3 linked regions of the Homo sapiens genome follow. The protein of the gene in region 3 purifies or fractionates together with the protein of the main gene of each other region. This does not show direct contact. Each region holds a gene or a part of one and is shown on either strand. Other genes may lie near its edges.

Evidence for each region. The genes of interacting proteins can lie anywhere in the genome.
Region 1: the proteins of TUT1 (region 3) and CPSF2 purify together in Homo sapiens (co-immunoprecipitation; 2 studies listed by IntAct, with this or other methods). This does not show direct contact.
Region 2: the proteins of TUT1 (region 3) and SART3 purify together in Homo sapiens (co-immunoprecipitation; 5 studies listed by BioGRID and IntAct, with this or other methods). This does not show direct contact.

Annotation. Positions count from the first base shown.
Region 1 is NC_000014.9:92,152,969-92,159,968, reverse strand, and holds part of CPSF2 (cleavage and polyadenylation specificity factor subunit 2), read right to left. Parts: intron 5,612-7,000; coding exon 5,511-5,611; intron 4,847-5,510; coding exon 4,646-4,846; intron 3,491-4,645; coding exon 3,338-3,490; intron 2,311-3,337; coding exon 2,085-2,310; intron 987-2,084; coding exon 687-986; intron 1-686. UniProt on the Homo sapiens protein: Component of the cleavage and polyadenylation specificity factor (CPSF) complex that play a key role in pre-mRNA 3'-end formation, recognizing the AAUAAA signal sequence and interacting with poly(A) polymerase and other factors to bring about cleavage and poly(A) addition.
Region 2 is NC_000012.12:108,551,174-108,558,173, forward strand, and holds part of SART3 (spliceosome associated factor 3, U4/U6 recycling protein), read right to left. Parts: intron 1-7,000. UniProt on the Homo sapiens protein: U6 snRNP-binding protein that functions as a recycling factor of the splicing machinery. Promotes the initial reassembly of U4 and U6 snRNPs following their ejection from the spliceosome during its maturation.
Region 3 is NC_000011.10:62,588,424-62,595,514, reverse strand, and holds the start of TUT1 (speckle targeted PIP5K1A-regulated poly(A) polymerase), read left to right. Parts: upstream 1-3,991; 5' UTR 3,992-4,029; coding exon 4,030-4,111; intron 4,112-6,293; coding exon 6,294-6,484; intron 6,485-7,091. Other genes in the region: metastasis-associated protein MTA2, read left to right, coding at 23-251, 445-534, 881-999, 1,108-1,256, 1,475-1,640. UniProt on the Homo sapiens protein: Poly(A) polymerase that creates the 3'-poly(A) tail of specific pre-mRNAs. Localizes to nuclear speckles together with PIP5K1A and mediates polyadenylation of a select set of mRNAs, such as HMOX1.

The DNA of each region.
Region 1 (7,000 bases), on a different chromosome or scaffold from region 3:
AAAACAAAAAAAAAACAGTATGACTTTCTTAGAAAACTATAAATCTCCTGACTGGAAGCAGGCAGGTGATCCTCACAATCATCAAACTTAAAATTTAAAAATCCAGACCAAAAAAAAAAAATCATGAAACAATTATGTACCTTAAAAGATTTGCTAAAGATATGTCATTCCTTAGCTATATAGAATTAATATATACACAGAGACATACACACAGAAGCATGTCACAAGTTCTCTTTTTTAAAAACTCCAAAATCAGCCCAAATGTGAGACATATTTTATGTTCAAGACAGGGTCTCACTCTATCATATAGGCTAGATGCAGTGGCACAATTGTGGCTCACTGTAGTCTCGAACTCCTGAGCTCAAGCAATCCTCCTGCCTCAGCCTTCTAAGCTGAGATTACAGGTGCATGCCACCATGCCGACTAGGTTTCTGACAGGGTGTCCCTATAATCAGGCTGATGTAGAGCTCCTGGCCTCAAGCAATTCTCCCACCTCAGCCTCCCAAAGTGCTGGGATTACAGGCGTGAGTCACTGCCCCCAGCTGACATATATTTTAAATGGTTAAAAATATAAAAGGTTCCACAGACCCACTTAGTTTTAGAAGGGGGGAAAAAAACCAAAAGACATGAAAACTAGAAGGATGACAAATTCAGGAAGAAATCAAAAAAGCACATGCTTTTTTTACCTCATGAGGTGGCAAGGGTTCCAAAGTAGGAATGATCTCACTTTCTTCACCTGTTTCTTTTTCATCATCTCCGAACAGACTTTTCATGGCCTTTTGTTGTGCTATAACGCTAGAATCTGAGGGAGCTTCCACTTGCATCTCTGAGTCTTCTCCATCATCCTTTAGTTCTCCTTCTTCTAAAATAACCCCTGTGTCCACTTTGGAAACTCTCATATCTAAGACACCATCTATCCAAGCTAATTCAGCATCTTTTGCCTTACAAAACTGAAGAGAGCTGACAAGTGAGTCTTTTAACCTCACCTAGACATGCAAAGGAGGGGGAGAGAAATAAAACCCACAGAATACATATTAACAAATTAAATATAACCTATTATCATTTTCTACCTCTGGTAATATGTTAAAATTGGAAAATCTTTCACTCATCTGAGTCCCACAATGACCTGCAATGACCTCATTACCTGCAGATCATTGGGCCCCTGCCTACTTTCCAAAATAGAGATTCTTAACCCTGACTACAAAATGGAATCACATGGCAATTAAAACAAAAAGTATATCAGAGCGTCATATCCAGTGTTTCTAACATAACTGGTAAGATTAAGACCAGAAAAACTGAGTCCCTCTGACCCTCACGAAGCTCCCCAGATGATTCTTATGTGCAGTCAAGGTTGAGAACCACTGATCACTCCCATCCTCTAGTACTTGGCATACTTCAGTAGGTACTGAACTGCTTGTCCTTTCCTGAATATACCACAGAATTTCACATCTCCATATTCTTGGAAGGTTGCTTCTTCTTACTCTGCCCAGAATAAATTTCCTGCCTGGTATGTGCACATCCATTTCTTCCAGATATAGACATCACTCTGGCCTTAAACTGACACCATCTCCCATTACCAGACAAAATTTATCTCTCTACTGTGCTAGTCCTATATTTGGTATCCATCTCCATTTGTTCCAATTAGGAGTAGAACCTTGATATCCGGGAATTCTTCTAAAACTTTTGAATTCTTAATCATTTTCCTCACCTCTGTACTTTTGCAAATATGGTTCCCTCTGCCTAGAACGCTCTTCCCCCCCTTTCCTACTCTGTCTGTCCTGACAACCCATCTAAACATCAGTTAGGATTAGTTATCACTTCCTGTAGGAAACCTTTTCTAAACCTCTAAATGTGGGTGGTTTCCCCTCTTGATACTCTCATAGCATCCTGTACTTCTTCTCTCAGTGGCACAACAACATGATAAATGGTATTTCCTTGTTCTAAGCCCCATACCCTATGAGGTCTGCTAGGGCAGGAGACCATCCATGTCTGTCTCACACATCTCGGTATTTCTAATGTTATCTGTCCTAACCTGCAACAAAAAGTACTTATTTCTACTCAATGGCAACTCCTGGCATGTTTACCTGGTAGATGTGAGTTTCACTAGTGGCATCAACTGTTTCATGTAGCTTTGGCATGTACACTTTAATATCTTTCCCACCAAAGGCGCGACAGCACTCTGCCAGATCTTGACTGGCCTCTGGTGGGCCATGGACGATGATCAACTGTCGTGGTTTCATCTGATTAATGATTTTTTTAATGGAATCCCCATCAGAGCGTCCTTCATAGTCTATGTAGGTAACCCGGGCTCTGTAATTAGATATGATTATTCAAGATTACTTTTCTCATAATTCTAAAAAAAAATGGCTTTTATCATGTATACAATATATAACACTAGGATTTGAGAAATACACATGTTATAGTATCTGTATGATTTATTTTATTTTTGTTTTTATTTTTCTGAGATTGGGTCTCGCTCTTTTGCCCAGGCTAGAGTGCAGTAGCATGATCTTCGCTCATTGCAACCTCTACCTCCCAGGTTCAAGTGATTCTCCTGACTCAGCCTCCCAAGTAACTGGGATTATAGGCATGCACCACCACGCAGGGATAATTTTGCATTTTCAGTAGAGATGAGATTTCACCATGTTGGCCAGGCTGGTCTCAAACTCCTGATCTCGAGTGATCAGCCTATCTCGGCCTACCAAAGTGCTGGGATTACAGGCATCAGCCACCGTGCCCGGCCCTATCTGTATTATTTAGATTTTATCTACACCCAAAAATATATACTAAATGATATTACTGGACAAATAAAAAACTTTGTTCTCTGATGACTTAAAAGAAATTCCAAAATGATCACTTACTGGTATTATTTAACTAAGTAGAAAGCGGGAGAAAAAAGGTTTCTAACTACTTCAGATCACAACAGTATTTTCCAGACATTAGGGTCTTAGAGATGTTTAAGTTAAGGAGTATATTTTATGAAACAAGCAGTTACTCAGAAAAATTAAACTGTGAGTCACATTATTCCCTTTCACCTGCTTACAGAATAAAAAGGCCAAAAATAATTTTTCTTCATATAAATGTACAATTTAATGTTACAATTTAAGCACCCCCCACCACCACCAATTCAATTACTTTGGCATTCAAATACCATTAATGAAGAGAAAATATCATGCCACCATACTTCACAAGTCTCTTCATACAAAAATAAATTTTAAAAGCACAAACTTACTAAAGAATATTCAGAAATTTTGCTTGACATAATGTAAATTATATAATTCAAATGCTTGAAATTTTATCTTATAATCTATTTTCAAAATGTCACAAAAGCACTTACTTTATTTCAATAGACTCTGTTGTAGAAATACATTTAGTAGGAACATCAGATAAATCCTGATCCATAGGTTCATCTCCATTTGTCAAACCAGATTCTAATTTGCTTTTTTCTTCTTCAGTAGCTTGAAGCTCTGGCACTAAGAAATCCTCTGGTCTAAATAATAAGTCTCTAATTAGAAGCAGTAAAAAGCAAGCTAATACTACATAACATATATGACTAGTAGGTGGCATAATTTTTGGAGTCCTCACATATCTCAAGATTTAAATATACATTTCATCCAAAGCTGATGCAATTTCATATCAATTACCAGATGGCTGTATGTATTGCGTTTTTTGGTTTTTTTTGAGGTAGAGTCTCCCTCTGTCACCCAGGCTGGAGTGTGGTGGCGCCATCTCGGCTCACTGCAACCTCCGCCTCCCTGTTCAAGCAATTCTCTGCCTCAGCCCCCAGAGTAGCTAGGATTACAGGTGCCTGCCATCACGCCCGGCTAATTTTTTTGTATTTTTAGTGGAGATGTGGTTTCACCATCTTGGCCAGGCTGGTCCTGAACTCCTGACCTCATGATCCACCTGCCTCGGCCTCCCAAAGTGCTGGGATTACAGGCGTGAGCCACCACACCTGGCCTGTATCATGTTTTTCTTTTTTTATTTTCCACACAGGATAGTAGTGTTTTCAAATTTGCAATTACAACATGTGATTGCAGTTGTTTTTCTAATAGTCAGTATAGATTTTGTAGATTTTTCCATGATTTCACTCATGCTATCTCACATTCCTCTTAATCTCATAAAACTTGTATAATACTTAAGACATAATCCATTGGAAATGCAATCACCAGCCATCCAAAGTTCTTTTTTTTTTTTTAAAGATAGAGATGGGGGTCTCACTATATTGCCTGGGCTGGTCTCAAACTCCTGAGCTCAAGTGATCCTCCCATCTCGGCCTCCCAAAGTGTTGGGATTACAGGCATGAGCCACCACACACAGCCCCAAAGTTCTTCCTATCCTACATCTTCCTCTCTTTTTAAGTGGGGGAAAAAAGTCTTGATCACGTGATCATGTTTTTAAACCTTTACACAACTAAGTCATAAACTGCCAGTTTTCTCTCAATATTCTCTAGATGTTTCTCAGCATCTCTATTTTTATGTTTCAAGTTACAAGTCTTCTGTGTCTTCAGGCTGAGGTACTCAGAAGCTAACCCCATACATGTGACTAGAAAGATCAAGTGAAAGATCAAATTCACTGAAATGAAATGATAACACAGTTAATACCTCCAATTTGTAAGAGAGAAAAGTTTGTTTTGCTCACATACTTGATAATCTCTCCATATTCATCCCATTTAATTCTTTCTTCTGGGGCAGGAAACATAGGATAGGACTTTTTTGCCTGTTTGAAAAAACTTCCTTTACGACTGCCTTCACCTTTCATCATCAAGTCATGCTTCGTCTTATGAGCTGATGGCTGGTCAATATCTTCCTCAATATCACTCTCATCACTGGAATCTATATCTGCCCTAGGAGGATTTTAGAATAGATCAAGGTCATAAAGTTTCAAAGATATTTTAAATTAATATTTATCAATTTATTACTGAATCCATACTCAATATTATTAATTCAATATTAAATGATAATATACAGTTATGTCGGTCAACAACAATAGACCACATATACAACAGAGGTCCCATAAGATTACTGTACCTTTTCTATGTTTAGATACATTTAGATACACAAATACTTAACATTGTGTTACAATGGCCTACAGTATTCAGTACAGTAACATGCTGTACAGGTTTGTAGCCTAGGAACAATGGGCCATATCATATACTCTGGATACACAGTAGGCTATACCATCAAGGTTTGTGTAAACATATATCCTAATGTTTGCACAATGACTAAATCCCCTAACGACACTTTTCTCAGAACTGTCCCCATCATTAAGTGATGCATGACTGGAATAACATTCAACTTTATTGGACTGACATTTTATAAAACATAACAAATAAATGCATAATAATATTAGCACTGACAGGATCTGGTATTCTAGACATTTGAAAGATGTCTGTAACAAAATTAAGTCTTACGAAAATTTAAAAATATTTTCAATGAAACATTTAAGTCAAGGACACATTCTTCTCAAATTGCATCCATAAATTTATAATCTGTCTGAAAATGACTCACTCTTTTGACTGCTCAAGCTTTTTGGCAGCTTCTTTCTTTAGTTTCTCTTTTTCCAAGTATTCTTCAAGTTCTTTCCCTTCAAGCTTCACACGTTTCCTCAACTAAAAAAAAATAAAAGACAAAAGGAAATGTTAATATGTTAATATTAGGGGGTTAAAGCAGTGGGATATGAGATACATCACATCTCTAAATTGCTCTATCATCTTTAAACTGATTGTTTCCTCTGAAATTAATCAAGTTTCCATTACATACAATTATAGGTCCTATTTAGATTAGTATTAAAATTGAGCTGTCACACATCATCTAGAATGGGTTTAATTTAAATCAAACTGGTTGGCCAGGCACAGTAGCTCACACCTATAATCCTAGCACTGTGGGAGGACTGCTTGAGGCCAGGAGTTCAAGACCAGCCTGGGCAACATAGGTTGACTCTGTCTCTAGGAATAATTTAAAAATTAGCTGGGAGGCTGGGCACGGTGGCTCACACCTATAATCCTAGCACTTTGCAAGGCAGGAAAATCACTTGAGTTTGAGACTAGCCTGGGCAACATAATGAGACTTTGTCTCCACATAAAAAAAAAAAAAAAAAAAAGCCAGGAGTGGTGGCATGTGCCTGTTGTCCCCGCTACTCAGGTGGTTAAAGTGGAAGATCACTTGAGCCTGGGAGGTCAAGGCTGCAGTGAGCTGTGCTCACACCACTGTACTCCAGCCTGGGTGACAAAGCAATACTCTGTCTCAGAAAAAAAAAAAAAAAAGCCAGTAGTGGTAGCATGCACCTGTAGTCCCAGCTACTCAGAGACTGAGTATCACTTGAGTCTGAGACTGAGGATCACTTCAGTCTGACAGAGCAAGACCCTGTCTCAATCAACCAAACAATCAAACTGGTTAAAAATCACCAATCAGGAAAAGAAAATACAGATAAGCATTTTTATAATTTGGAGTAGGTGAGGCCCAAAAGCCATAATGGGAAACATAAATAAATACAGCAACATGAATAAAGAAAAACTCCCTTTGACATTTTAAATCTCAAAATAAGAAACTGAAAAGAAAAACAAAAAAGAAACAGAAAAATATTTTCAGCACTACGACCAATAAAAATGATTTTTTCCTAAGAGCTCTTCCAAATTAGTTAAGAAAAGGATGATCAACACATGAAAAAGCACAAGATACTTAAAAAGGCAATTTACAAAATAAGAAAGACAAATAACTACTGGCCATGAAAAGATCCTTAATTTTACTAATTTTTGAAAAGCACAAAATATAAAAAACATAATTGTTTTCATCTATGAGATTGGCAATGCCATACATGGGGAAAGAGTACCTTCTTCCATTATCTGTTGGAAAATTAGTGCAACTATGTTAAAAGGCAATTTGCTAACATCTAAAAATAAAATTTGACATTTGACACAGTATTTCTACTTCTAGGAATTTATCCTACTGAAACAATCACAAATGTGTAAAAAAAAAGTACATTCGTACATTGCAGCAAT
Region 2 (7,000 bases), on a different chromosome or scaffold from region 3:
AGTTGAAGCGGACATATTAATATCACATAACGTACACTTCAGAGCAAAGAAAATTACTAGAGATAAAAAGGATTATATAATGACACATAATAATAAATAGATCAATCTACCAGGAAGACATAACAATCCTAAATGTGTAGGAACCAAAGAGCGCTTGAAAATTCATGAAGCAAAAACTATTACAGAGCTCAAAGAGACACAGCAGCAATTACATTTGGCAACTTCAACATCTCCCTTTTCAGCAACTGATAAAACTACTAGACACTTGAATATGTTGAACCTGGTCAAAAAGAAGATGAATAAAAGAAAAAGAAAATTAGACAAAAGCAAATTAAAAAATTTTTAAGTTTTTAAAAAGAAAGGAAATTGTTTAATTTTTTTTTAAACTAGGCAGAACAGGGTTATAGAAGAACTCAATAACGCCGTCAACGAACATGACCTAATTTATATAGAGAACAGCCCACCCAACAATACAGAATATGTATTTTTCTCAAGTACTTACGGAACATTCACTGAAGCCATATCCTTGGCCATAAAACAAACCTCAACAATTTAAGAGAAATGAAAACCATGCAGAGTATGTTTTGTGACCACAATGGAATCAAATTAGAAACCACTAACAGTAAGAAAATCTCTGAACACGTGAAAATTAAGTAATACACTTCTAAATAATCTGCAGGTCAAAGAGGAAGTCTCCAAGAAAATTTACAAATTAAAAAAAGTGAATGAAAATGAAATTGCAACAAATCAAAATAAGTAGGATGCTACTAAAACAGTACGGAGGAAAATTTAAAGAACTAAATTCAGTGTATAAGAAGAATTATACACCATGACCAAGTGGTATTTATTCCAGGTTTGCAAGGCTAATTCAACATTTAAAAATCAATTACTGTAATCCAGTGTATCAAAAGGCTAAAGAAAACTCATGGTATCAATAGATGCAGAAAATGCATGTGACAAAATCCAACAACGATTCATGGTTAAAACACTCAGCATGTTAGGAATAGAGGGAAACAACCTCAACCTGATAAAGAGCATCTATAAAAAATCTATCCCATAAGTTGGGATATAGGGTTACCTTAACATCATTCCTAATGGTAAAAGATTGAACACTTTCCTCCTAAAATCAAGAACAAGGCAAGGATGTCTGCTCTCACCACTCTTTTCCAACAAAGTCCTATAAGTTCTAGCCTGTTCAATAAGACAAGGAAAAGAAATAAAAGCTATACAGCTCGGAAAAATAAAACTGTCCTGATTTGTAGATGATATGGCTAAGTAGACAATCTTAAGGAACCAATTAAAAAAAAAAAAAACTCCAAAAATAGTGAACTGAGCAAGGTCACAGAATATAAGATAAACATACAAAAACAAAAAAAAAAACAAAAGAACATGTGGAAACCAAATTTAAAGACATAGCACCATTTACAATCACTCCAAAAAACCTAAATAATTAGGTGTATATTTAAAAAGTTTACAAAATCTGTATGCTGAAAATTACAAAATGCTGAGGAAAGAAATCAAAGACCTAAAAAAAGAGACACTTCATGTTCATGGATTGAAAAACTCAACATAGTCAAGAAGTAAATTCTCCCTAAACTGACTTACAGGCTTACTGAAACTCCAATTAAAATCCCAACAAGGTTTTTTGTAGACCTAGACAAGCTTATTCTAAAATGTATATGGGATGGCAGAGGCCCTAGAATAGCTAAAAATGATCTTGAAAAAGAATAAAGTGGGAGTAATCACTCTACCTGATTGATACTAAAACCTACAATACAGCTACAATCATCAAGGCAGTGTGAGAATGGCAGAAAGATACATAGATGAAGAGAATAGAACCCAGTAACAGACCCACACAAATATGCCCAAATAATTTTTGACAAACGCAATGCAACAGAGGAAAAAAAAAGGCATTTTCAAAAAATGATGCTGGAGCAAATGGATATCCACAGGCAAAACAAATAAATACACCTTGACCTAAACTTCACGCCTTACAGAAATAACTCAAAATGGATCACACTTAAATGTGAAATGTAAATATAACATCACAAAATGTTAGGACAAGAGAAAAATTTCAAGGCAACATCAAGGATCCTTAAGGTGACAGAACTGATCTGTATCTTGACTATATCAATGTCAATACCCAGGTTATTACATATTATAGTTCCTCAAAGTGTTATCATTGAGGGAAACTGGGTAAAAAGTACACGAAAAATCTCTATTATTTCTTACAAGTGCATGGAAATCTACAATTATCTCAAAATAAAAAGGCGAATTGTTTAAAAAGCTTTTGTTGGGATATAGGGATAATTTAAGTCTGTACACCAAGACTTCATTAGTATCTACTCTTCCAACATCTGCCACATTTTAGGAATATTTCCCTCTCCAGAGATAAAAGATTACCTACACTTCATTCAAATTACACTCTACCATCTGACAACATACCCTAATAATCCAGGTACTAGATATTTAATTAAAATACAGAAAGACAGCCAATGAATATGATTACTTGAACTTTAGGATAAAAATCTTAACAATGAAGTAGCCAGTGAACCTTTAAATGGAGTGGGGACAAGGACCAACCATTCAGAGAATACAAATATGAAGGATTACGGGGTTTTGTTCAAGTGTTTAGATTTTAAACAAGAACTCATTATCTTTCTCTACTAATTATAATAGTAAAACCCTTCCATGGCTTCCCAGTATCCTAGGAACAATTTGCAAATCCCTGCCTCATGTGCAATCCCAGCATGCTGGGCTCATCTCTCCAGCTACATCTCAAACCACCGGCCTCTCAACATGGCAGCCAGCTTCGTGTAACTCAAACATTCCAACGTCTCTCCAACCTCAGGGCTAGGCACCTGCTGCTCCTTCAGCCCAGAAGGATCTCTCACCTTCTCTCTGCCTAGCCACCCCTTTTCATACTTCAGGTATAAACTTCACTTCCTCAGAGGGCGCCCCCGGCCCCCCTCCTATGCCACTCTTTCTTAAGTAGCCCCCTATATGCTGCAAGCTGTTTTCCATCTCATCATCGTGTTTATTTCCATCATGACCTAAAGGCTTCATGGGATAAGTACCTTGTATGTCTTATCCTTGACTTGGTTAGATTCTTTACCTACCTGGCACACAGAATTCAATAAATTACATGTCAATCTCACTCAAGAGCATTAATACAAAAATCCTAAATAAAATATTAAAAAATCAGAAATGTATAAAGAGAACAATACATAATGATCAATTTGGGTCTATCCCAGGAATGCAAGGGTGTTTTTACACTACAAAATCATCCAGTATAATTTTTCCACCATCAGATTTGAGGGAAAAAAACATGATTACCTCAATGAAGAAATAGCATTTGATTAAAACATCCATTCATGAGTCAAAATTAAGAATTAGCAAACTAGGAATAGAAAGGCACTTCCTTAACCTGATTTTTAAAATCTGCAATAAATATATTTTAATAACATATTTATATATTTATTATATTGTTTATTATATATTTATATATTTATATTTAGTAAATTTAATAATACATTAAAATTCCTTTTAAAAAACACAAAAAACTTCCCAGTATTGCCTTCTATTTAACCCTGTACTGGAGGTCTGGGGTTTTAACAATGAGACAAGGAAAAGAAACAGATATAGAGAAAAGAATGAGAACTGTTAATTATGGTCAGATGATATCAATGTATAGTAAACCAAAACTCATCTACAAACAAATCATTTGGAAATAATAAACAAGATTAGCAAAGTGACAAGCAATAAGAGCAATGTATAAAAATCAATTATATACAAAGAGACAAATACTGTATGATTCCACTTATATGAAGTATCTAGTCAAATTCATAGAGACAGAAAACTACAATGGTAGTTATCAGGGGATTGGGAAGGAAGGAGAAGGAGAGCTGTTTAATTGGTAGAGTTGTATATATGCAAATGAAAACTTTGGAGATCTGCTTCACAACAATGTGACTATACTTAACACTACTGAACCATACACTTAAGAATAAGATAGCAAAGTTTACGTTATATGTTTTTTACAATAAAAAAATTACATTTCTATAAACCAGCAAGCTTTAAAATGTAATTTTAAATAGGATAGCATAAACATCAAGCACTATAAAGTACCTAGAAATACATCTAACAAAAGATGTGTGAGACCTCTATGGCAAAATGTTTTTAAACTTGATTGAAAGATATTAAAGACTTGGCCGGGGGCGGTGGCTCACACCTGTAATCCCAGCACTGTGGGAGGCCGAGGCAGGCAGATCACTTGAGTCCAGGAATTCAAGACCAGCCTGGGCAACAGGGCAAAACCCCGTCTCTACAAAAACTGTAAAAATTAGCTGAGTCTGGTGGCACATGCCTGTGGTCCCAGCTACTCGAAAGGCTGAGGTGAAAGGATCGCTTCAGCCCAGCAGGCGGAGGTTGCAGTGTGCTGAGATCATGCCACTGTACTCCAGCCTGGGAAACAGAGCAGGACCATGTCTCAAAAATAGAAAGAATATTCAATACCTAGACGAATGGAGTTATATGCATGTTCTGGGTTAGAATAATCATTATGGCAAAGACGTCAATTCTCCCCTAAATAATCCATAAATTCAATGCAATTCAAATAAAAAAACCAACAGGGTTTTTCACAGACCTTGACAAAATAATTCTAAAATTTATATGAAAGAGCCAAAACACCCTGCAAGGAAAGAAAAAAAGCAGGTAGGAGGATTTGTCTTACCAGATAGCAAGCCTTAGCAATAAGTTAATCAGTGGAATTGGCACAGGATAGACAAACTGAAGAGAGAGCCCAAAACAGACCCATGCAGTTGAAAAACACTATGGCTCAGGTGGCACTTGCTGTTTCAGCTAAAATAAATTCACAACCTATGACTATGACCCCCAGGTTGAAAAACAGTGACTTTGAGAAACTCTCTTTTTTTTTTTTTGAGTCAGGGTCTCACTCTTACCCAGGCTGGAGTGCCGTGGCAGTCACAAATCACTGCAGCCTCAAATTCCCAGGCTCAAGTGATCCTCCCGCCTCAGCCTCTTGAGTAGCTGCTACTACAAGCTCATGCCACCACACATAGCTAAATGTTTTAAATTTATTTTTTGTAAACACAGGGTCTCACCATCTTGCCCAGTCTGGTCTCAAACTCCTGGGCTCAAGGGATCATCCTGCCTCAGCCTCCCAAAATGCTAGGACTACAGGTGTGAGCCACTGCATCTGGTGAGAAACTCTTGTACATGATGTGAACTGCTTTGTATTTATCAAATTACATGCCAAAAGATAATAATCAATTACAGATAAGAACATGATCTCTAAGTTTTAAATCTTAAGACTTTTAGCAATGTTCTCCTGCTTATGATTCATAAAACCTGAGAAGCTGAACTCATCCGATGATCACACGATAGGCTGAAAAGCACTGGACCAGATCAGGACACAAGTGTTCTAATCCCCACTTGTTCTGTTTCCTCATCTGTACCATGAAAGAGCTGGGCTAAAGCTCTGGTTCTTAAATGGGCTATCATGACACACTGATGTTTCAAAATCACCTATCAAGTGTGTCACACAAAGTAACCGCAGTTTGGGATGTTTGAGAAGTGAAGTTTGAGAAGGATACACTTTCTTCATTAAAGAACATTCAAGGCTCTCCCCACCACATCACCAGTCTGAACTCAATAGAGTGTGCTTGCGGAGCACAAACAGGAGTGGGAGAGCACTTGCTAGTCAGTGTCACGAATATCTATGCATGCAAGTGCCCCTCACATGAACACCATGTGTGGATCAGCAGAAGAAAAAGGTATAAAAGTCGCTAAAGTCAAGAAGCTGACTTTTAAGGTGTGGCTTTTGGTGTAAACTTCTGATTTTTAGGGTAAAATGATGAAGATACTATATGTGGACAAGTACTCTGAAAGTACATATATTAAATACATACTGAAATGCACTTAAAAGAGCTATTTCCACATAGTTCAATCTATACTGATAAATGAGTACATATGCTGGTCTATTCTGGTCTTAGAACATCATTAATGACATAGTTTTTTTTTTTTTTTTTTTTTTTTTGAGGTGGAATCTTGCTCTGTCACCCAGGCTGGAGTGCAGTGGTGTGATCTCAGTTCACTGCAACCTCTGCCTCCCGGGTTCAGGCGATTCTCCTGCCTCAGCCTCCCGAGTAGCTGGGATTAACAACATAGATGCTTTAAAGGAAACTTAACCAATCACAAAATGATCTGCTAACTGATTTAACTCCCTAGCAATGTGAAAAATGTGTTATACCTAGCTGTACTAGAATGGGGGAGAAATAATAGAGAGGACTGATGGAAAGAAAACAACTGGTGCAATCAAAGGCAGGGAAGGGAGAATGGAGCAGCACCTATTATGCGCCAAACTGTGCCAGGCGCTTTACGCACATTGTGCCATGCCCCACAACAGTCCCATGAGGAAAGCACTATTACAACCTTCATTTTACTAACTGGGACACCCAAGACTCTGCGAGCTGAAATAACTTGTACAAGGCCTTTCCACTACTCAATGGAAGGCTTGGGTTCAGGGTTGCAAAGCCATAGTCTCCGTACTGCTGCACTGACAAATCTGCCGAAGCCACCATGAAGTGCCACTTTTAATTTCAGCGCACAAACACATATAATGGAAAATATTTGCTTTTGTTAGACAGATACCACAGCAAACTGCCAGCTACCATAAAATATAATCAAGGCCACGTGCAGTAGCTTGCGCCTGTGATCCGAGCACTTTGGGAGGCTGAGGCAGGAGCATCACTTCAGCTCAGGAATTCAGCACCTGCCTGGGCAACATAGTAAGAACCCATCTCTACAAAAAAAAAATATTTTTAATTAGCCAGGCATGGGGGTGCATGCCTGTAGTCCGAGATACTTTGGAGGATGAGCTGGGAGGATCACTTGAGCCTGGGAGGTCCTAGCTGCAGTGAGCCATGATCACACCACTACTCCAGCATGGGCAAGAGTGAGATGCTCTCAAAAAAAAAAA
Region 3 (7,091 bases):
CTTTCCTATGCTCTTCTTCTAGGAGCCACACTCAAGGGGTCATTTATCCAGACCTGAAGCTCAAAGTCTCTCTCCTTACACAACCAGCGCCAACAGGGCCAAGCTACTGGCTAAGAACAGACAAACTTTCCTGCTTCAGACCACAAAGCTGACCCGTCTTGCCAGACGCATGTGCAGGGACCTATTACAGCCAAGGAGGGCCGCCCGACGGCCTTATGCTCCTATCAATGCCAATGCCATCAAAGCAGAGTGTAAGGGCAGGGAGTGGTGGGACTGGTGGTGGGTTTCGGATTGCTCTGCCCAGAGACCGTTGTTTCTCTGGATGTCTAATAACAGGAGGGATAGTAGGCCACAGATAATTTTTTTAAGATTAGAGTTGGCTTCTGGCCTTAGAGGAGACCTGAATGGTGAAGCCCTTCAGAAGCTTTCTTCTTTGTTCTCCAGGCTCCATTCGACTTCCTAAGGCCGCCAAGACTCCATTGAAGATTCACCCTCTGGTGCGGCTGCCCCTGGCAACTATCGTCAAAGATCTGGGTATGGGATGGGGACCAGTGAGGTTGGCATCAGGCTCCCAGTCCTTTCCCTGTCTGACATCTCTCCCCTTGCTTTTTTTCTTCCTCATAGTGTCCTCAGAGATTTAGTCTAACAAACTGTACTTTTGTTGTTTAATAATTTTTTTTGTAAACTATTCAGTATTACTGTACTGATTTGATAAGGTCATACTGATATTTGAAATACTAGTGATAGCTTGCCAGAACATTCCCCCATTGCTACTTTTGGGGATGCCCAGGTAAACTGCTGGTCCAGGGAAGAGAGATGGAAGTAACAAAGGGGAACTGCGTGGGAAGAAAAGGTGCGAAAGTTTTCTGTTTTTTTCCAGTGGCCCAGGCACCCCTGAAACCAAAAACACCTCGGGGTACCAAGACACCGATCAACAGAAACCAGCTGTCCCAGAACCGGGGACTGGGGGGCATTATGGTGAAACGGGCCTATGAGACTGTGAGTTGACAGAAAGGGGTGGGCCAGATTGAGTTGGGTGGGCTTTTGTCTCTCATAGGAGTCTGAGAGGGTCCCTTCCCTCATTGTGCCATCCTACCCCTTTTCCAGATGGCAGGGGCAGGGGTTCCTTTCTCTGCCAATGGAAGGCCTCTGGCTTCAGGGATTCGTTCAAGCTCACAGCCAGCAGCCAAGCGTCAGAAACTAAACCCAGCTGATGCCCCCAATCCTGTGGTGTTTGTGGCCACAAAGGATACCAGGTAAGGCGTCTACCATGGGAGGGGCTGAGAGGGACAGTCCAGGCTGGTGAGTGTGGGGAGTAGGAGTATCAGAGCAAGAGCTCCAGGAAAGTTGTGGATGCAGGGTGGGGATGCCAGAAAAGAATGGGCCAGAAGGCATAATTGCAGTGTGGGGCTTCACCTGGAGGTCTTAATGTTCTCTAAGCCTTTTCTGTTTCCCACTTGCTCTTTCTGGCCAGGGCCCTACGGAAGGCTCTGACCCATCTGGAAATGCGGCGAGCTGCTCGCCGACCCAACTTGCCCCTGAAGGTGAAGCCAACGCTGATTGCAGTGCGGCCCCCTGTCCCTCTACCTGCACCCTCACATCCTGCCAGCACCAATGAGCCTATTGTCCTGGAGGACTGAGCACCTGTGGGGAAGGGAGGTGGGCTGAGAGGTAGAGGGTGGATGCCCAGGGCACCCAAACCTCCCTTCCCTTTCGTGTCGAAGGGAGTGAGGAGTGAATTAAGGAAGAGAGCAAGTGAGTGTGTGTCCCTGGAGGGGTTGGGCGCCCTCTGGTGTTACCACCTCGAGACTTGTCTCATGCCTCCATGCTTGCCGATGGAGGACAGACTGCAGGAACTTGGCCCATGTGGGAACCTAGCCTGTTTTGGGGGGTAGGACCCACAGATGTCTTGGACAGTTTTGGGGGGAGGGTTTTTTAATTTTTTAAAAATTTTGCCTCCCTTTGTGAAAGGGGATGGGGAGGGGAAGAGTAAACAGATAACAGGTGGTGGTACCTGGTTGGGGGAGGGGGGCGTGCACTGCCATGTCTTTTTTTTTTTTTTTTTTTTTTTTTTTCCTAATTGGGGGTTTCTCTTTCTGTCCGGTGTCCGGACTTTCCTAATTGGAGTTTGAGGCCCCTAAGCTGGCATCAACCCCAGGCCACGCTCGCTCTTTCCTTCCCTCCCCTCCCCCTCTGCCTTTTGTACGCCAGTTCTCAGAAATAAAGATCTTTTGTCCGTTTTTTTAACCTCGGATTCTGTAATTGGTTCTTATAGTAACAAATAAAAAGCTGTTTTCTTCAGCTTCTCCTGGCTCAGCTGTTCTTTGCCATGGGTGTGTGTTGTGTGTGTGTTGGGGGTGTCTTTGAGAGGGAAAATAAAGGACAAAGGACAACAAAGGAGGTACAGATGGTTCTTGCCCTGGGAACAGCTTTATGAGATAGGCAGCCTGGACCCAGGCGGCTTGCTCCAGCTAGGCTTCTTGTGGGACCCAAACTGCTCCCCAGCTCCCAGTGGTGCTGGAGCTCAAGAACCATCTTGGCCCAGATTCATTCAAAGGAGTTGAGATGAGCTTTCTGGATGACTGGTGGCCTCCATAGGAAAGGGGAATGGGGGTGTTTCTTCCTCTGTTTCCCACCTCTTACTCCCCTCTCCCTTTTGTTTAAGGAATTCTGGAAGTTGCTAGCAGCCAGGGTAACATGTATACCCCCTTGGGGGTGGTGGTGGGGTTATAGGAGGATCCCCTCACCTAGCTGTGTGGTGTATTTGGCAGACGAGAATTCTACCACTGAACCACCCTAGCACCTCTGGGTGTATGTGTACAGCCTGCTGCTTCAGGATCCTCAAGGCCAGTCTCGATGATATCCCGATCCACTGTAGCACTGTTTCCTGCCTTAAAGGTTTGGGACACTGAGATTAGATGCCTGAGCTGGGCCCATTAGAAGGAACACCTTAGGATAGAGAACAAGAAGTTCAGCCTGCTGTGTGCTCCTTGGGCACTTCCTTTAGAGATGGGAAACGGCCTCAACAGTTGTGACTTGTTCAAGGTCAAAGACCTTGGTGTCTGCCTTAGGTCCACTGCTCTTTGCGCCATTCAAAGCTGTGGGCTGATAACCACAGCACAAGCTGCTGAGCCCATCTGATAGTTCTCTCCACCTCGTTATGGTCCCTGTCCCTAGGGCATCCCCAGCTCCCCGTAGTCCCTCCCTGTCCTGAGCCTACACCTCGGCGGCGTTGGGATGAACTGACAATTATACCAGGAGGGGGTTGACAGCATTCGCCCCCTCCAGTGTCTAAACTCAGTTACTGGCACTCGGTTTTGTCTTGTCGCACTGCTCTGAGGTGCGCCAGTAGCTCTGGCGCCTCCGGCGTACACCACGCAGCCCACTACTGCGGAAGGAATGGGCCTGGCTCCAGGACCTCGTGGAGTCCGGAAGGTGCCCGGTGGTGGCAGAGCTCCCCAACCAGGGCTAGAAGCCGTCGCAGAACACCCGTTTTGCGGGAGGACAGGGGGCGGAGGGAGGGAGTAACAGCCCTGAAAAGGTTGGAAGTCCAGGGACAGCCCTGGGCTCCGTGGGGCAAAGAATTGGAAGCCGCCGATCCTCCGCCTTTATTCGTCGGGTAAATAAGGGTCGAGGGTACAGACGCACGGGTGTCTACTGCGGGGTGAAGGAGCTGCCGCAAGATGCCACCCGGCGCCGGCCTTTGTGGCTGCTGTCATGAATATTCACGATGCTTTGGGCCAATCAACGTCTGAACAGCTTAAAGCACACCAATCGGCTTACCGCATGCAGATAAGCATCGTAACGCGCCGCTTTTCCTGAAACGGGCGGGGACTGGACAGCGGCTAGAAACGGAACCCAGAGTCGAAGGAGCTTGGTTTCCGGAGGAGTGTGTCCGCGCAATTGAACGACTTTATGTCACTTCCTATCGGATCGGCGGAAGTTGCTTCCGAGCGCGTTGAGCTTTGGCGAAGTGGGTTCCGGTGGTGGCAGAGGTGCTTGTGTTTTTGTCGGTACAGGAGAGTCGCTATGGCGGCGGTGGATTCGGATGTCGAATCGCTGCCGCGTGGGGGGTTCCGCTGCTGCCTCTGCCACGTTACTACAGCCAACCGTAAGCGGTGGCTAGTGAGGGACCCGGGGGTGGTTGCGGGCTTTCGTCTTTTGATCCTGGCGAAAGTTAGGGTTATAGGTAGTCAGTCGTTCTTGTCAAGTTGATTGGTAGGGTCTCTCACCTCCGTTTTTCTCTGCAAGTCCGAGGGGATTTGGAGAGTCGGGAAAGTTCCACCACATTACACTCCTCAGTATATGAAATCTCCACAACGCAAGTTTAATTGTTTTATTACTTCTTTAACCATCATCTATTGGACATATGCTCTGTGCCTGGTATTCTGCTGATCTTTAGGGTGGGGGAGGGGGGTTCAGAGATGAAGGAGCTCACCGTCTAGAGAATGAGAAAGTTTCAATGCTTTATAGATATGTTCGGAGAACTGTGGGACCACAGAGAATTAGTAACTAAATCAGAGAAGCCCTACAGAGGACCTACTCAAAGGAGGGGATGGATGAAATAGGTGTGGCATGAATGACTAGACCATAAGGTACCAGTGAGGAAGAGACAGAAGATGGGTTTGGAAAAATAGACAAGGTTCTTGTATGACACACAAGGGGTTCACTGTAACTTCAAATTCCACTTTTTTTTTTTTTTTGAGACAAGGTCTTGCTCTGTCACCCAGGCTGCAGTGCGGTGGTGTGATCTTGGCTCACTGCAGCCTCAACCTCCCGGGCTCAAACCATACCCCTGGCTAGCCTCCCAAGTAGTTGAGTCTACAGGTGTGCACCACCATACTTGGCTAATTTCTTTTTTCTTTTTTTTTTTTTTTTGAGACAGAGTCTCACTCTGTCACCCAGGCTGGAGTGCAGTGGCACGATCTTGGCTCACTGCAAGCTCCACCTCCTGGGTTCACCCCATTCTCCTGCCTCAGCCTCCCGTGTAGCCGGGACTACAGGCACCCGCCACCACGCCCGGCTAATTTTTTGTATTTTTTAGTAGAGACGAGGTTTCACCATGTTAGTCAGGATGGTCTCGATCTCCTGACCTCGTGACCCGCCCGCCTCGGCCTCCCAAAGTGCCGGGATTACAGGCCTGAGCCACCGCGCCCGGCCTACTTGGCAAATTTTTTAGTTTTTTGTAGAGATGGGTTTTCACCATGTTGCCTAGGCTGGTCTCCAATTCCTGGCCTCAAGCGATCTTCCCATCTTGGCCTCCCAAAGTGCTGGGATTACAGGCGTGAGCCAATGTGCCCAGCCCTACTTTTGAAGTCTGGAATCACAGTGTTCCCTAAACAGGGTTTACTTCCATTCTTCCTTTTCACTGTGAATGGCACTATCACTGTTCATCCAGTAAGCCAAGCCAGAAACCTAGGAGTCTTCTTTGGCCCCACATTTACTTTGGTGACATCAAGCAGCTAACTCAATAAAATAATAGCAACGGTTAGTTTTTCAACATTTACCGTGTACCAGACTCTCTCTGCCAAGTGATATATCTGAATAATACCTGTGTGTGAGGTGCTAGATACTGATATTTCCATTTTATATCTGAGGAAGTTGATGCACAGTGAGGCTTCATAACTTGACCAAGGTCTCACACAGGTTGACAGAGCTGGGATTTGAACTTGGGCAATGTAATTTCAGATCCTGCCTTTGACATCACTATATTATACCATGTCCAAAGATGATCCACAAAGTATTCCATGATCCAAATTTTTTTAGTTCTTGTGTAGATGACCTGGATAAGTTACCTGTTAATTTGTTTCCAACTCTACCTAGCACAAATAGGTGGTTTAAGAAATACTTTACTATCACACTGTTCTTTAAGTAAAAATAAACAAAATACTTGTAGTGTAGCCAGTTCTCCTGGGAACCCTCGTCTCTACTAAAAATACAAAAATTAGCCGGGTGTGGTGACACACGCCTGTAGTCCCACCTACTCACGAGGCTGAGGCAGGAGAATTTCTTGAACCTGGGAGGCAGACGTTGCAGTGAGTGGAGACTGCGCCACTGAACTCCAGCGGGGGCGACAGTGAGACTCTGTTTAAAAAAAATAAATTAAAAAAAAAAGAATGTACTATTTAGACAAATGTATAAGAGAGGAAGGTGAAAGGAGCCAGGACTTTGTTTATTCAAAGGTCACAGTTTCTGTGGCTTGGAAGGATCAGTAAGATTTAGGTATGCAGAGAGCAAAGGCAGACACGTCGAAGAGTGCTTTGCATGTTTTTGTCTCACACTTGTCTTTGCAGGACCCAGCCTTGATGCCCACTTGGGAGGCAGAAAGCACCGGCACCTGGTAGAACTACGAGCTGCGAGAAAGGCCCAGGGACTTCGAAGTGTGTTTGTCAGTGGCTTTCCCAGGGATGTGGATTCTGCTCAGCTCTCTGAGTACTTCCTAGCATTTGGACCTGTGGCCAGTGTTGTCATGGACAAGGACAAGGTAAAGTGAATGGCTCTCGGGTTAAAGAATGAATCAGTGCTGGGCGCGATGGCTCACGCCTGTAATCCCATCACTTTGGGAGGCTGAGGCAGGCGGATTACCTGAGGTTAGGAGTTTGAGACCAGCCTGGCCAACATGGTGAAACCCCATCTCTACTAAAAATAAAAAATTAGCTGGGTGTGATGGCGCATGCCTGTAGTCCCAGCTACTTGGGATGCTGAGGCAGGAGAATCGCTTGAACCCGGGAGGTGGAGGTTGCAGCAAGCTGAGATCGTGCCACTGTGCTCCAGCCTGGATTACAGAGCAAGACTCCGTCTTAAGAAAAAAAAGAATGAATCAGATGTGCTGTGTACCAAAGAGACAAGAGAGAGAAACCAACAGCCTCTTTGAGCTGGTTCCTAATGTGGCTTATTCTTGATGGACATCACAGTACTTGGGCTAGACCAGCTTTGGGAGCTTCTCACACCTCCCCCACCCCTTGAATTTTTATTTTTATTATTATATTTTTGAGTGCAGTGGCACAATCTCAGCTCACTGTGACGTCTACCTCCTGGGTTCCAGCAATTCTCACACCTTAGCCACCCAAGCAACTGAGATTACAGGCGCG